Linked DNA regions of Homo sapiens. The gene in region 1 interacts genetically with each later gene. Each region holds a gene or a part of one and is shown in the gene's direction. Other genes may lie near its edges.

Region 1 (7,426 bases):
CATGAGCCATCACACCCAGCCAAGAAAAAAAAAAGTTTTAAAATTCATCTTGAATTCCCTACGAACACAGAAGTAATCCCTGGGACATGATTGTCCTAATTTGTGTTCTACTCTTTCCTTTTTCTCTTTCTTTTGGTAGTAGTTGTGGCTCTAGTCCTGTCACTGCCACTAAGATCTCTATGATTTTGGGCAAGCCACTTTGTCTTACTGGGGCACAAATGATATGTGTGAAAGTACTCTAAATTGCAGGCTGGGTACAGTGGTTCTTGCCTGTCATCCTAGCGTTTTGGGAGGATGAGGCGTCAGGATCACTTGAGTCCAGGAGTTCAAGACCAGCCTGGGCAACAAGGCAAGACACTATTTCTACAAAAAGTTAAAAAAAAAAAAAAAATTAGCCAGGCATGGTGGTGCCTGCCTATAGTCCTAGCTACTGGGGAAGCTTGAGGCAGGGGGATTGCTTGAGCCCAGGAGGTCTAGACTATAGTGAGCTATGGTGGTGCCATTGTACTCCAGCCTGGGTGACAGAGTGAGACTTTGACTCATAAGTAAATTGCAAAGCATTAAAAAATACAATTATTATTATTGAACTAGGTGATCTCTGTATTTCCCTCAAGGTCTAAAATTTTTATTTTTATTCTACACTTTTGATATTTTTAGTGAATTCATCTGATCTAGAAGCCAGAAATTGCTCTTTGAAGACTCCTTTCTTTCTTTCTTTTTTTTTTTTTTTTTGAGACAGAGTCTCACTCTGTAGCCCAGGGTGGAGTGCAATGGCACGATCTCAGCTCACTGCAACTTCCGCCTCTCGGGTTCCAGCGATTCTCCTGCCTCAGCCTCCTGAGTAGCTGGGACTACAGGCGCCTGCCACCACGCCCGGCTAATTTTTGTACTTTTTAGTATAGACGGGGTTTCACCATATTGGCCAGCTGGTCTCGAACTCCTGACCTTGTGATCCGCCTGCCTTGGCCTCCCAAAGTGCTGGGATTACAGGCGTGAGCCACCGTGCCTGGCCTAAAAGACTCCTTTCATTACACCAAAGCTGCTGCTGATTCAATAAGTACAGAATGATTTGTGACTTTAACAGCAACACCAAAAACAGGTTATTCTTCAATCTTTTAGGCTAAAATTACTGCAAATGATACATGACTTTAAGAAGAAGGCTGAGTCATAGCCAACACCTGAGGACTTCATTTTCTATGTAAAAAAAAAAAAAAACAATTTTGCCATTCTTAAATCCAATAAATTTAAATCTTAAGAAACTAAAATCACATTTGAAAAGGCTAGACCCACTCACATCTCATTTTTGTGCATTTTGCTGGGCACTGTCAGTGTTGGAATGGTGACTATAGCAGGCAGGAAACAAAGGAGGACTCATACCTTATATACAAAATTATAGAATCTCAGGGTTAGAAGGGTTTCCAGAAGTCATTTAGACCAGTAGAATTTAATGGGCTTACACAAGTTCTAAAAAAAAGGCGAGGAGGATTAGACATACAAGTACCTATCATTCATTCATTCATTCATTCATTTATTGAGACAAGGTCTCACTCTGTTGCTCAGGCTGGAATGCTGTGGTTTGATCATAGCTCACAGCAGCCTGGAACTCCTGGAGTCAAATGATCCTCCTGCCTTGGCCTCCCAAAGTGTTGGGATTACATGCATGAGCCACCGTACGCAGCTTTCAACTTTTTTTTTGAGACAAAGTCTCACTCTCTTGCCCAGGCCGGAGTGCAGTGGCACAATCTCGGCTCACTGCAATCTCTACCTCCCCAGTTCAAGCGATTCTCATGCCTCAGCCTCCCAAGTAGCTGGGATTACAGGCATGCGCCACCACGCCCGGCTAATTTTTGTGTTTTTAGTAGAGACAGGGTTTCACCATGTTGGCCAGGATGGTCTCGAACTCCTGACCTCAGGTGATTGCCCTTCCTTGGCCTCCCAAAGTGCTAGGATTACAGGTGTGAGCCACTGCACCCGGGCTCAACTTTTAACCGAGCAAGAATATTTTAAAAACCAAAACCATCTACCATCGGCACCTTTTTATAAAAGAGCATTTTAATGACACATATGTGAAAAGACTAAATCTCAGAATGAAATATAATGTGAAATCAGATAAATAAATGAAAGATGTATTGCTTACTTTTCTCACATCCTCATGGCAAACTTTGTTAGCCACTTGCACCTGTCCATACACAGATCTTTGGGAATCACTAATTTAGACCACTTCATGCCCACCCTTACCCTGCCCCCGGCTTCATTGAGCATTTTTATCACAATACCAAAATATCCGTCTAAATGTATACCTCATCCCCTTATGGAGAACTCCTCAAGCTGAGGAATCCATTAAACTTTGGATGTGTGTGAGAAAATTAGCAGAAAAGGAGTGATCTCTGGAAAACTCAAGATGCTTAAACTTGGCTTTTTTTTTTTTAAGACCAGAATTGATTAATTAATTAATTTTTTAGATGGAGTGGAGTCTCGCTCTGTCTCCAGGCTGGAGTGCAGTGGCACGATCTCGGCTCACTGTAACCTCTGCCTCCCAGGTTCAAGCGATTCTCCTGCCTCAGCCTCCCTAGTAGCTGGAGCTACAAGGCACATGCTACCATGCCCAGCTAAGTTTTGTATTTTTAGTAGAGACAGGGTTTCACCACGTTGGCCAGAATGGTCTCGAACTCCCGACCTCAGGTGATCCAGCCGCCTCGGCCTCCCAAAGTGCTGGGATTACAGGTGTGAGCCCACCATGCCCGGCTGCATTTTATATCAGAATTTAACAGCAGATTTTAACTTAGTCAAAACATGCTTTAGAGTCACCAAAGGAGAATGATGTCTAACAGTGCTGATTTGGGAGTTGGGCACCCTGAGTGTTGGTTGGGCTTTAAAAACTTCATGCTAAACTTCAGGGGAAGTCTCCTCCCCTCTCTCTTCAGTTGTCTTCCGAGATGAACCCTATTACTAATTACTTGACCACCTTTCAAAGTTGCAGTTAAAATTCTTCACATTTTTCTCCCATTTCTATTTAATTAATTATTTTTTTTTTGAGACAGGGTCTCTCTGTTGCCCAGGCTGGAGTACAGTGGCGTGATCTAGTCTCACCGCAACCTCCGCCTCCCGGGTTCAAGCGATTCTCAGACTCCCGAATAGCTGGGGTTACAAGTGTGCGCCATCACACCCGGCTAATTTTTGTATTTTTAGTAGATACGGGGTTTCATCATGTTGGCCAGGCTGGTCTCGAACAACTGACCTCAAGTGATCTGCCCGCCCCGGCCTCCCGAAGTGCTGGGATTACAGGCGTGAGCCACTGCGCCCGCCCCCCATTTCTATTTTAATTAAATTTTATTTAGGATAGGCTTAGCTTAAATTTTTACGACTGAGGTCTGACTTAAGATGATAGCATCAACCATGGAGTTTTCTTTCGTGAACATTATTATTACTAAGCCCAATTTTCCCAGGTCAAATTTTGTAAAACAAAACGTGGTCAAAATTTGATTCTCTGATCGATTTTTTGTAAAAAAGAAAAAAATTACCGTGTAGTTTTAAATGTTGTCAATTAAATTTTGTAATAGTTACCTCTACTCTGTTCAGGTTAATACTGAGGTTTTCAACAAGACCAACATACGATTCTTTTTTTTTTTTTTTTTTTTTTTTTTGGTGGGGTTGAGGGGACATAACAGTTTTTTCACTCTTGTTAAATTAATTTTCTGTTGATTCCATCTATCCTTAATCTTCATTATGAGCAACATACCAGGTTTTCTTCTGAAGATCATATGTGGTAGTGAGGCAATAATGCAAAGACATAGGATGGCAGGGGGATTCCGGCTTCTTTCTTTCTTCCCCTCCTGTGGAAAGAGGGTCTATAACACTCCGTAGTAGATAGGACAATTCTAATTATGAAGGGTAATTAGCTAGGCTCTGCTACAACCGAGAGCCCTGAGAGATTCCTCGACGCTGGCTGCTTTTCTCTTCCTCTCCACCAGAGGCGACAGCCTCTTTCCAAACAGAAACTGGGTTGGAATAGGCCGGTCCGGGGGAACGGCCAGAAGAAAGATCAAAGGTTAAAAACCGCCTCAAAGAGCACAGGTCAATACCCAACTCCTAAGGAGGCCTTAAGCTTTCATCTGCCACGAAACATGAAGGTGACTCCTCCCAATATCAAGGCCGGGGGGCCACTCAGCCTTCCAGAGACCCGGCGGGTCCGAGGCGAGTAACAGGTAACACCTGCTGAGCCGCCGCCGACCGGAAGTGGAAGAGAGCCCGGGACGGGGGTGAGGACAGGCCGCGGCACGCCTGCGCAGTCAGCAGGAGTTGCAGCGCTCATGCGCAGCTGGGCGGTGACAGGGTGACGCTCGGAGCGTGGGCCGCGACTCTCACGGATCCGGTTCCGCCCTCTCGCTGCCGATCCTTCGGAGCGAGCGCCCGAGATCCCTTTCCCAGAGTGCTCTGCGCCGTGAAGAAGCGGCTCCCGGGGACTGGGGGCATTTTGTGTTGGCTGGAGCTGGAGTAACAAGATGGCGTCGTCCGCGGAGTGACAGGGGTCCCTCTGGGCCGGAGCCGGCGGCAGTGGTGGCAGCGGTATCGCCGCCCTAGCTCACCGCGCCCCTTTTCCAGCCCGCGACGTCGCCGCGCAAGCGAGGCAGCGGCGGCCGCCGAGAAACAAGTGGCCCAGCCTGGTAACCGCCGAGAAGCCCTTCACAAACTGCGGCCTGGCAAAAAGAAACCTGACTGAGCGGCGGTGATCAGGTTCCCCTCTGCTGATTCTGGGCCCCGAACCCCGGTAAAGGCCTCCGTGTTCCGTTTCCTGCCGCCCTCCTCCGTAGCCTTGCCTAGTGTAGGAGCCCCGAGGCCTCCGTCCTCTTCCCAGAGGTGTCGGGGCTTGGCCCCAGCCTCCATCTTCGTCTCTCAGGATGGCGAGTAGCAGCGGCTCCAAGGCTGAATTCATTGTCGGAGGGAAATATAAACTGGTACGGAAGATCGGGTCTGGCTCCTTCGGGGACATCTATTTGGCGATCAACATCACCAACGGCGAGGTAATCATCTGGGGTGGGGTTCACGATAACGCTGCGCTTTTACTCATTCCCCCCACCACCACCGTGCACCCCCAAAGTGCTCGGGCCTCTCCTCATCGCACGCACTCGCCAGGGAGTCCAGGGAGCTAGTTTTCCTGGCTTACGAACCTCGTCCGCTGTCTCCCTAAAAGGGTCAAGAACCCGATAGAAAGGTTGGGGGAACTAGTTTCCCACCTTGTTAAACACGTCCCATAAATGTCCCTTAGTCGAGCTTTTTTTTTTTTTAACCGTCTTTTAAGGTGGAAACGGCAAAATCCTCTTTCAGTGATTCCCATGTTTTTTTTTTTTTAATTCTTAATTCTACTGGGCCTCTTGTTCCAATTAGAACAGTTTCCGATCGCCTAGTTCCTTAAAAACCTCTCACTACGTTCAGAGGTTGCCTCTTTTTTCTGGATGAATCATTTTCCTGCACTTTAGAGGACGTACGGATTTCGTCACTACCCCCTGAAGAGGCCTTTGAGGCTGGTTGCCTCGTTTTATAATTACCGAGAGCTTTCTCTTTCCAGCTTTTCACTTCTTCTTGTAGTCGCGACTTGGAGTTTTGCTAATGTCTCCCTCCTTTCCTAAGTGACATTGAATCCGTAGGGATGTTGATGCCATCATCCCCTCTTTCCCCTGCAGGAAGTGGCAGTGAAGCTAGAATCTCAGAAGGCCAGGCATCCCCAGTTGCTGTACGAGAGCAAGCTCTATAAGATTCTTCAAGGTGGGGTTGGCATCCCCCACATACGGTAAGAACCCGGTGCATATAGGCGATCCGCTGAGGGAAGCACGGAATGGGGAAGTGGGTAGAGGCAGGTAATGAGACCAGCTGAATCCGGGTCTTGGTGTTTTAGTTACCTGGGTTCCCTATAGCTGGTGGTTTCCTGTAAGTCAGTCATCTCAATTACTGAGTAAATTTCAGTTTGCCAACTTATTTCATTGTATTACACTGCTCCATTTCGCTTCCGTCATTCTCACTCTTCCCGAGGCTTTCATTTGCAGTTATGCGTGCAGGTCATCTTTGATCCCTACGCGGAAGGGTTGGCTGCTGCCTTTTTTACGGCGGCACTTCTGATGTACTTAGGTTTGTCCAGTGAAGTGGATTTGAAGGTGCCGAAGCGACCCGGCAGTGTCAGTTCGAGTTGCTATTGGAGCTGGCTTGGGAAATGGCTGCTCTTTTGTTGTGTTTTTGTTCCAACATGTCTTCCTCCTCCGCTTAGAAAATGGCGGAACGACGTGACTCAACCCCATATTCCTGCCCTTTTCTCAGCTTGAGTTCACAAATTATGCTTCCTTGATTCCTCCTTTAGCAGCCCCGAGTGGATTAAACCTTTGAAAAGCCAAGAATAAAGCTGCAGGAGGCGGTGTGGAGGTTCGAGGAAGGAGATGGCATAGTGACAGTGTTTGTGATCTCTGCAGCAGATGTGACACGAAATTGTTGAATTACACTATGTAAAATCCTTCGTAGTTCTTTTAAAAGTGTTAATTACTCTTTCTTTTCGTGAATGGTCATATTTGGCACGTTTCAGTCGGGACTAAATTTGTATAGGTAGTGGCAAAGGCAGTTTGAGCAGCACCAACTATGTTAAAATTTACTCATATCAGTTGTATTTAAAAAAATCTTAATCACTTAGCCACACTTTGATAAGTAATTTTAACCTGTTGAGTTTGTCAGTAAATCTTCACATCAGAGAAATTGGGGCCTTTGTTGGTGTGGAATATTGGTGAGTGCAAATAGCAGTAACGAGGATAAAAGATGACGAGATAGACATTGTTCTGTCAAATGGTTAACTTTACTTTGGAGGGTTTTAATGTTTTAACTTTTGGGATTAAAGATCCTCTTCATGGAATGGAGACTAAAATATAGTTTAAAGCCCAGCTATTTTCCAGCAATAATCTAAAATAACATTTGCAAAATTATTCAGAATAGGTAAGAATGGTACTTACTGTTTACTGGAGCCTCTTCTTTAAGACGGAGTTTTCGCTCTTGTGGTCCAGGCTGGAGTGCAATGAATGGCACGATCTTGGCTCACTGCAACCTCTGCCTCCCGGGTTCAAGTGATTCTCGTGCCTCAGCCTCCTGAGTAGCTGGGATTACAGGCGCCCGCCACCACGCCTAGCTAATTTTTGTATTTTAGTTTCACCACGTTGGCCAGGCTGGGCTCGAACTCCTGACCTCAGGTGATCTGCCTGCCTCGGCCTCCCAAAGTGCTGGGATTACAGGCATGAGCCACTGTGCCCGGCTTTTTTTTCTTTTGAAACGGAGCCTTACTCTGTTGCCCAGGCTAGAGTGCAGTGGCGCAACCTTGGCTAACTGCAGCCTCCGCCTCCCAGGTTCAAGTGATCCTCCTGCCTCAGCCTCCCAAGTAGCTGGAATTGCAGAGCTG
Region 2 (7,883 bases), on another chromosome or scaffold:
GGTCTCGAACTCCCAGCCTCAGGCGATCTGCCTGCCTTGACCTCCCAAAGTGCTGGGATTACAGGCGTGAGCCACCACGCCTGGCCCAGTGTCAGGTCTTTCTCTCACCCAGACTGGAGTGGAGTGGCACCATCTCAGCTCACTGCAGCCTTGACCACTCGGGCTCAAGCCATCCTCTTGTCTCCGTGTACCTGGGACCACAGGTGCACGCCACCATGCCTGGCTAATTAAAAACAATGCTTCTATAGGGAAAGGGTCTTGCATTGTTGCCCAGGCTAATCTTAAACCGCTGACTTCAAGTGATCCTCCCGCCTCAGCCTCCCAAAGTGCTGGGATTACAGGTGTGAGCCACTGCGCCCCGCCCACATTTTCTATTTTCAGGAAAAGTGGTGCCCTGTGTGCGTGGCCTGGCGGCATGTCTCTGGGGTGTTGTAGCTCCTTGTTCTCTGTCGGGCTTGGGATGGGGGCACAGGCAGCATCTGGCCTCTCCTGTGGGCTCAGAACTGATGGAAAAAGAAGGCTCAGGGATGAGAGCTGGGGCTCGCCTTACAGCCTGGAAGGCGGTGGAGGGTGGTGGGGGCTCTGCCTGCGATGGAAAGTGCAGTCCTCCCTCGCCTGAACGGGATGGTCCAAGGCCTCCCTCCCCCTCGAGGGGCCTCCCTCCCCTCCAGCGGCCTCCCCTGCCTGCCCACTCCCACCTCTCACACCTATGGACTGAGCGGAGGGGGCAGAGAAGGGGCAGACTGGAAGAGGCTGAACCCAAGGCTTCCCTCAGCCTCCAGAACCCTGGATCAGAACCGTCCGTCCTCTTCCCCCGCTCCCCTTACACTGATGCAGGGTCGGTGGCTGCACAGTGTCCATCTCTGCAGCTGGCTGTCTCCATCACACATCGTACAGCGGCAAACACTCCCCAGCTAATGTCCTTGGGGTGTCTTCCAGGGTTTCCTTTGGGTCATTTTTTATAAGTGGTCTTCCTCAGTTAAATGGATAAACACACTTAAGGCATCAAAACTCACTTTATTATTTTCTTAATTTTTATTTCTTGGAGACACGGTCTTACTCTGTTGCCCAGGCTGACGTGTAGTGGCTCAATCACAGCTCACTAAAGCCTCCAACCGCTGGGTTCAAGTGATCCACCTGCCTCGCGCTCCCGAGTAGCTGAGACCATAGGTGCGCAACACCACGCCCAGCTAGTTTTTAAAAATTGTTTAGTAGAGACAAGGTCTCACTATGTTGCCCAGACTGGTCTTGAACTCCTAAGCTTAAGTGATCCTCTGGCCTTGGCCTCCCGAACTGCTAGGACTACGGGTGTGAGCCACCGTGCCTGGCCTTTTCTTTATTTTTATTTTTTTGAGACAGAGTCTCGCTCTGTCACCCAGGCTGGAGTGCAATGGGGCGATCTCAGCTCACTGCAACCTCTGCCTCCCAGGTTCAAGCAATTATCCTGCCTCAGCCTCCTGAGTAGCTGGGACTACAGGTGTGCGCCACCACGCCTGGCTAATTTTTCTATTTTTAGTAGAGATGGGGTTTCACCATGTTGGTCAGGCTGGTCTCGAACTCCTTACTTCGTGATCCACCTGCATCGGCCTCCCAAAGTGCTGGGATTACAGGCGTGAGCCACCGCTCCGGGCCAGCCACTTTATTTTCAAGGTATTCCTTTTAGGCTGGGCATGGTGGCTTGGGCCCGTAATCCCAGCACTTCGGGAGGCCAACGCAGGTGGATCCCTTGAGCTCAGGAGTTAGAGACCGGCCTGGGCAACATGATGAAACCCTGTCTCTAGCAAAAATACAAACAATTAGTGGGGTGTGGTGGCACACGCCTGTAATCCCAGTTACTCGGGAGGCTGAGGTGGGAAGATCACTTGAGCATGGTAGGTGGAGGCTGCAGTGAGCCAAAATCACGCCACTGGGCTCCAGCCTGGGCAACAGAATGAAACTCCGTCTCCAAAAACCAACAAACAAAAAAACATACCTTTTATGTCTACATTGAAGAAAATAATTCCATGTCTGCTCTTAAGTGTCTCATTTGGTGCCTAGAAACAAAACCTGATTAAATGTCATCTACGGTCAATCAAATAAAAGCCTTCGTGGCAAACTCACGCTCGAAGCAAAGGGCGTTTGCCTCTTCAAGGAGCTCTGTGAGGAAGGGAGGTGGCTGAACCTCACCCTGCACACCACAGGCCCCCGCGCGCCTCCCTGCCCCTCCTCAGGGCCTTCCTCTACCTCTCTTCTGCCTGGCCTGCCTCTGGTCTCCTCCTACCCCCACTAGGCTCAGAGAATCTCCCCTCCACACCCACACCACAACCTACTTTAGAAGGGCTGCTGCATTTCCTCCAGGCTTTCTGACCCCCTTCCTGTCCCTGCAGGGCAGGGGCCCCGAGGAGCTGGAGGCCCAAGGGCCTTGTTCTGGTCCCAGGGCCTGGGGACACCTGCCACCGAGGGCCAAGAGGAGGATGGACGTGGACACAGCCCCGAGAGCCTGGCCCGGACACAGCAGCAGCTCTGCAGAACCAAGGCAAGCATTGGGGACCTTGTTGGGAGTCGGGGGGCAGCCCAGGGGCCAGTGTCTGAGGTCCTGCTGTCTGTCTGGCCACCCAGGACTCCCTCATCCCTGGAAACTGTGCTTTACCATGGAGGCCACCCACTCTGTCTCCTCTAAGGTTCTGAGGCTGAATGGGCTAGGGGGCTTGCGGGGAGGCCCCAGTGTCCAGCACTGTGGGACCTGGCAGGGTGCCTGCGGCCAGGACCCAGCGGGGCCAGGTGTTGGTCTAACAGTGCAGCTTCGTTCATATCCCCAGCCCCTGCCCACCTGCTCTGAGCACAGTGATGGCCCTGGGAGGTGGGCCTGGGCCCTTGGCAGGCTGGGGACAGCCTAGTGGCCCTTGTCCCATGCTACCCCCTTTCCCACACAGCGATGCTGGCATCAGACACCATGCTGAGTGCTGGCAGGGGCGAGGGCTGGGAGGCTTCCACACATGGTTCCCCATGCAGTCCCACCTGTGGGCATCTGGTTGGGGGTAGGCTGGAAGCTCGGGGAGCCTGGAGCTGGGACTTCTGTGCTTGCCTGGGAGCTCTGAAGGGTGAGGCTGGGCATCCAGGGTGACACAGCCCAGGGAAAGACATGGGGGTGACGTGAGAGGTGCCTGGAGGGAGCTGGCAGGTATGGACATGATGGACACGGAAGCACGGAGGCGGGCAAGTGGCCAGACGCATCTAGGGGAAGGTGTGGGGGAGGCGCCCTTAGGAAGGGCCCTGAAGGGCTGTGGGCAGCAGGGAGCCCTGGGAGGCCTAAAGCAGAGGGCAGATAGATGAGGGCTGTTGTCTCAGGTGTGGGGCGGACGAGGTGGGGAGCCCTCACCCAACAGGAGGCGAGCTGGTCCTGTGTGGCCTGAACTGCAGCTGTCTCCTCTGTGAAACGGGGGTATAGCTGACCCCAGGGGGCTGCCTGGAGCATCCCGGGAGGTGCCAGGCCCAATAGTGCTCTGGGAAGGACAGGGCCCTGGGCTGTTGTGGGAGGCGGCAGATCCTGGTACTCACATCCTCCTCCTTGGGGAGGGCCTGATGGTTGGCTGAGGCCTGGGTGGAGAGCAGAGGGTTGGTTCTGACAGGGTTGGGCTGGCCAGAGCTGGTGCTGGGGCTGCTGCTGGGGGCCCGTGCCTCTCTGCCGTGGGGTGCCTGGGGCTGTGACCTCATGCTCTGTGGCCTGCAGGGCAAGTGACACGGATCTGGGCAGCCAGGGTGGCAGGATCGGACTGGACCCCTTGGCAGGGCCGCTGTGGAGACAGCCCAGGGGAAGGGGTGCAGGGGTCTGGACACTCCAATGGCCTTGCTCTCGGGCTGGCCTGGGCAGCGGAGGGAAGGAGAACCCTTCTCTGATACTAGATGGTGCCTGGGAGAAATCAAGGCAGAGGGTCCTAGCCGGTGGGCTCTTTGGAGGTTGTGGCTCCTGTCCGGGTGAGAGCCACCATATATTGGGGCCTAACGTGTTCCCTGGCGCTGTGAGTCCAGGCTGCCTTGGGACTCAGGAGGGTGGAGCCCACCCCACCTTCCAAGGGCCCTGGCCATCCCTGCCTGCCGACCACCCCACTCCTGGGAGCCTGCTTCCCTCACGGCGGCGGGCAGGCCGTGGCGGTCCCCACGAGGGCCTCCTCTCCAGGGCCGGCTGGGCAGGGAGCCCCGAGGCCTGCAGCCCCCTGACTGCCCTCCGATGTACTGGCGGCAGAAAAGGGCTGCGCCCCACGTGCGCCCTTCGGGGCGCGCAGTCCGCCCAGTGCTCCCCACGGCCGCGGCCATTCCAAGGACCTGCAACGCCGCCTCTCCCACTCCGCTCTCTGGGAAGCCAAAGCCTCCCGGGCTCCGCTTCCGCACCGCCCCTCGGGAAGACGGCGCGACCGCGCCCCCGGCACGCCCCGCCCCCGGCAGGCACTGACCACGCCCTCTCCCGGCCATGCAGAGACCCCGGCCCATGTTTCTCAACTCGTCTTCTCGCTTCCGGCCCCGCCCCGCGCCGGAGGCCCCGCCCCACGCTCTTTACCTCTTCTGCTCGAGGCGGGCCCCGCCTTACTCCCTGGTCCCCGCCCCACGCCCGAGGCCCCGCCCCGAGCTCTTCACCTCGTCTTCTCGCTTCCGGCCCCGCCCACGCCCCGGCCCCGCCCCGCGCTCCTCACCTGTCCCCTCGCTGTCGGCCCCGCCCCACGCTCCTCACTTTATCCTCGCGCTTTCAGCCCCGCCCCGCGCCTGAAGCCCCGCCCCACACCCTTTACCTCGTCCCCGCGCTGCCGGCCCCGCCCCGTGTTGAGGCCCCGCCCCGCGCTCTCACCTCGTCCCCGCGCCCCGGCCCCGCCCCCGCACTTCCGGACGCCGCCGGCGGGGGCGCTCGGGCCTGGGCTTCGGCGCTCTGGCTCGGGCTCTGGCTCGGGAGGCGATCGTGGCCGCTGCCGCCGCCAGAGCCGGCCGGAGTCGGCCCGGAGCCGCGTCCACGCGGAGCGGGCGGGTGGGAGCTGGCGGCTGGGCCCCTGCGGCGCCCCCGCGGCCTGCCCCGCGTCCGCCTCCGGGCCGCCGAGCCGCAGCCGCCGAGATGGGGGCCGCCCCGGGCCGCGCCCCCGCCGGGTCCCGCCCGCCGCGCTGCCGCTGAGCGCATGGGCCCGGACCGCGCCGCGCCGCTCCGGGAGCCGGGCCCGGGGTCCCGCCACCACCGCGCGCGGGTGAGTAGGGCCGGGCTCCGGGGCGGGCTAGGCCGCGGTAGGCCGGGCGGGCGGGACCCGGAAGCGGCGGGGGGCGCGGGTGGCTGACGCGCGTGGGACCGAGGGGGTGGGCGCGCGGGGAGCTGGGGCCGGGGTGTCCCTGGGCAGCGGGACTGGCGGCGCGGTGGCCGCTTGGAGGTCCGAGGCCTCGGGCGCGTCTCGGGGCACGGAGCAGCTGCAGGGGCCGCGCATCGCGTGCGGGGGCCCGGGAGAGCCGGGCCTGGAGCCCTCCCCGCCGCCCAGAAGTCGGCGGGAGTCCGGCTGTCCCGGAGGAGGACACTCCCGCCCGCCCTCGCCGAGGCCGCGTGCCGGGTCCGGGTCGGGGTTCGGCCTGAGTAGCCGCGTGCTCCGGCGTCCGTACCCTCCAGGTTGATGCCTTGCTGCCCAAACACTGGTCTTTCTCTTGGGTGTGGTTCTTAGATTCTACCCCCGCCCCGCACTTTGGAATTTAGCCCCCGTGAAACCAGAGCTGCACTGCCCGAGCAGTGAAACTTTCAGCTTGGCATTGAAGAAAGTAGAGAAAAACATGTCAGTTCTCTGGGGATTTTTCTCAGCCCATCTATAAGATATATATATATATATTTTTTGTAGAGATGGGGTGTCACTATATTGCCCAGCAGGTGTTGAATTCTTGGCCTCAAGCGATCCACCTGCCTCAGCCTTCCAAGGTGTTGGGACTACAGGGGTGACCACCGTCCTCTAAGATAATTTTTTTTTTTTGAGACGGAGTCTCGCACTGTAGCCCAGGCTGGAGTGCAGTGGCGCTATCTTGGCTCACTGCAACCTCCGCCTCCCGGGTTCAAGCAGTTTTCCTGCCTCAGCCGCCTGAGTAGCTGGGATAACAGGCATGCGCCACCACATCCGGCTAATTTTTGTATTTTTAGTAGAGACAGGGTTTCACCATGTTGACCAGGCTGGCCTGGAACTCCTGACCTCAGGTGATCTGCCCACTTTGGCCTACCAAAGTGTTGGGATTACAGGCGTGAGCCACCGCGCCTGGCCCCTTCTAAGATAATTTATAAAGGGTTCTTATGTGCATGTCAGCCCCTTGTTTTTGCTCACACTTCTGTTCTCTGCTTCTTCAGGAAGAATCTCGAGCTTACTTGGATCCACAGGCCCTATTTTGGAGAAAACACAGTCTAAACCGGCTACCCGAGATACTCAGCAATAGCTCGGTTTCAGTTTTTTTTTTTTTTTGAGACAGAGTTTTGCTCTTGTTGCCCAGGCTGGAGTCCAATGGCGTGATCTCCGCTCACCGCATCCTCCGCCTCCCAGGTTCAAGCGATTCTCCTGCCTCAGCCTTCCCAAGTAGCTGGGATTATAGGCATGCGCCACCAAGCCTGACTAATTTTGTATTTTTAGTAGAGATGGGGTTTCTGTATGTGGGTCAGGATGGTCTTGAACTCCCGACCTCAGGTGATCCGCCCACCTCGGCCTCCCAAAGTGCTGGGATTACAGGCGTGAGCCACCTCACCTGGCTTTGGTTTCAGTTTTAAGATCTCCATTCAGGGACAAGGATGGGAAAGCATGAAAAACAGACTGTTTTTGTTTGATTTTCAGCTGGTGTTGACTTGTCTTGGGTTTCTAGTTTCAGAAAAGCTAAGCAGACTTTTTCGGATTACATTGGTCATTGAGAATTTCAGTGATGGGGGAATAAATTACATGTGAAATAGTAGCCCTGAACCTTCAAGAGTTAAATCAATGGACAGCTGGGAAGATGTCAGAGTCGTGTTGTGTTACTTGCCTCCTCCATGTAAATCAAAATGTCAAAAGTTACGTTTGGGTAAAATAAATACCTACACACGTAGGTAGCATTGAGTTTGCTGCCATGATGCCTGGAGCATATGCCTAAGCGGTGACGAAAGGGAATTTTAAATACAGTATCATACTTGTAGGCATCCCGCCCGTTTTATGGACTCACTTTATTGATGGTAGCTACAGGCTGTGGGCCAGATTCAGTGCTTGCAGGCATTTGATACTGAACTGAGTAAACGTGACTGCTTTATGTGTGGTGTGTACTTGTGTGTACACTAAATGCTTGGTGTGCTTCCCTGTGGGAACCCAGAGATTTCAGGAATTGGGACATGTTTCAACAACATCAGTAGCTTGTAGAGGGGTTCATGTGCTTCCAGGGACACCAAAAAGTCTTCTGTCAGTTGACAGCCAAAAATACACATGATTGTAAGAAAATTTTCTTCTGGGCTCTGAAAATTTGGTTCACACATGAATTAAAACATTAGTTTTGGGGCCAGGCAAAGTGGCCTGTAATCCCAACACTTTGGGAGGCCGAGGCGGGTGGATTGCTTTGAGCTCAGGAGTTTGAGACCAGCCTGGCCAACGTGGTGAAACCCAAAATACAGTAATTAGCCGGGCGTTGATGACTCGTGCCTGTAGTCCCCGCCACTTGAGAGGCTGAGGCTGGAGAATTGCTTGAGCCTGGGAAGCTGAGGCTGCAGTGAGCTGAGATCGCCCCACTGCAGTCCAGCCTAGGCGACAGAGCGAGACCCTGTCTCAAAATAACAAAAAACAAAACAACAAAACCCATTAGTTTTGGAAGAATTTGCTGCTGTTTTCTGTGGTACAGTAGTTCAGCCCCTGTAGAGAGCCAGTGTTTGGCGTCTGTGACAAATGTCTTTTCTT

Evidence for each region. Genes that interact genetically often act in the same process or in processes that back each other up.
Region 2: of CSNK1A1 (region 1) and AXIN1, changing one suppresses a phenotype caused by changing the other (phenotypic suppression), as found in Homo sapiens cells (one study listed by BioGRID).

What each region holds. Positions count from the first base shown.
Region 1 is NC_000005.10:149,548,437-149,555,862, reverse strand, and holds the start of CSNK1A1 (casein kinase I isoform alpha), read left to right. Parts: upstream 1-4,423; 5' UTR 4,424-4,898; coding exon 4,899-5,021; intron 5,022-5,497; exon of another isoform or gene 5,498-5,681; coding exon 5,682-5,788; intron 5,789-7,426. Other genes in the region: ARHGEF37 (rho guanine nucleotide exchange factor 37), read right to left, coding at 3,740-3,761.
Region 2 is NC_000016.10:349,690-357,572, reverse strand, and holds the start of AXIN1 (axin-1), read left to right. Parts: upstream 1-4,849; 5' UTR 4,850-5,138; coding exon of another isoform or gene 5,139-5,204; intron 5,205-7,883. UniProt on the Homo sapiens protein: Component of the beta-catenin destruction complex required for regulating CTNNB1 levels through phosphorylation and ubiquitination, and modulating Wnt-signaling.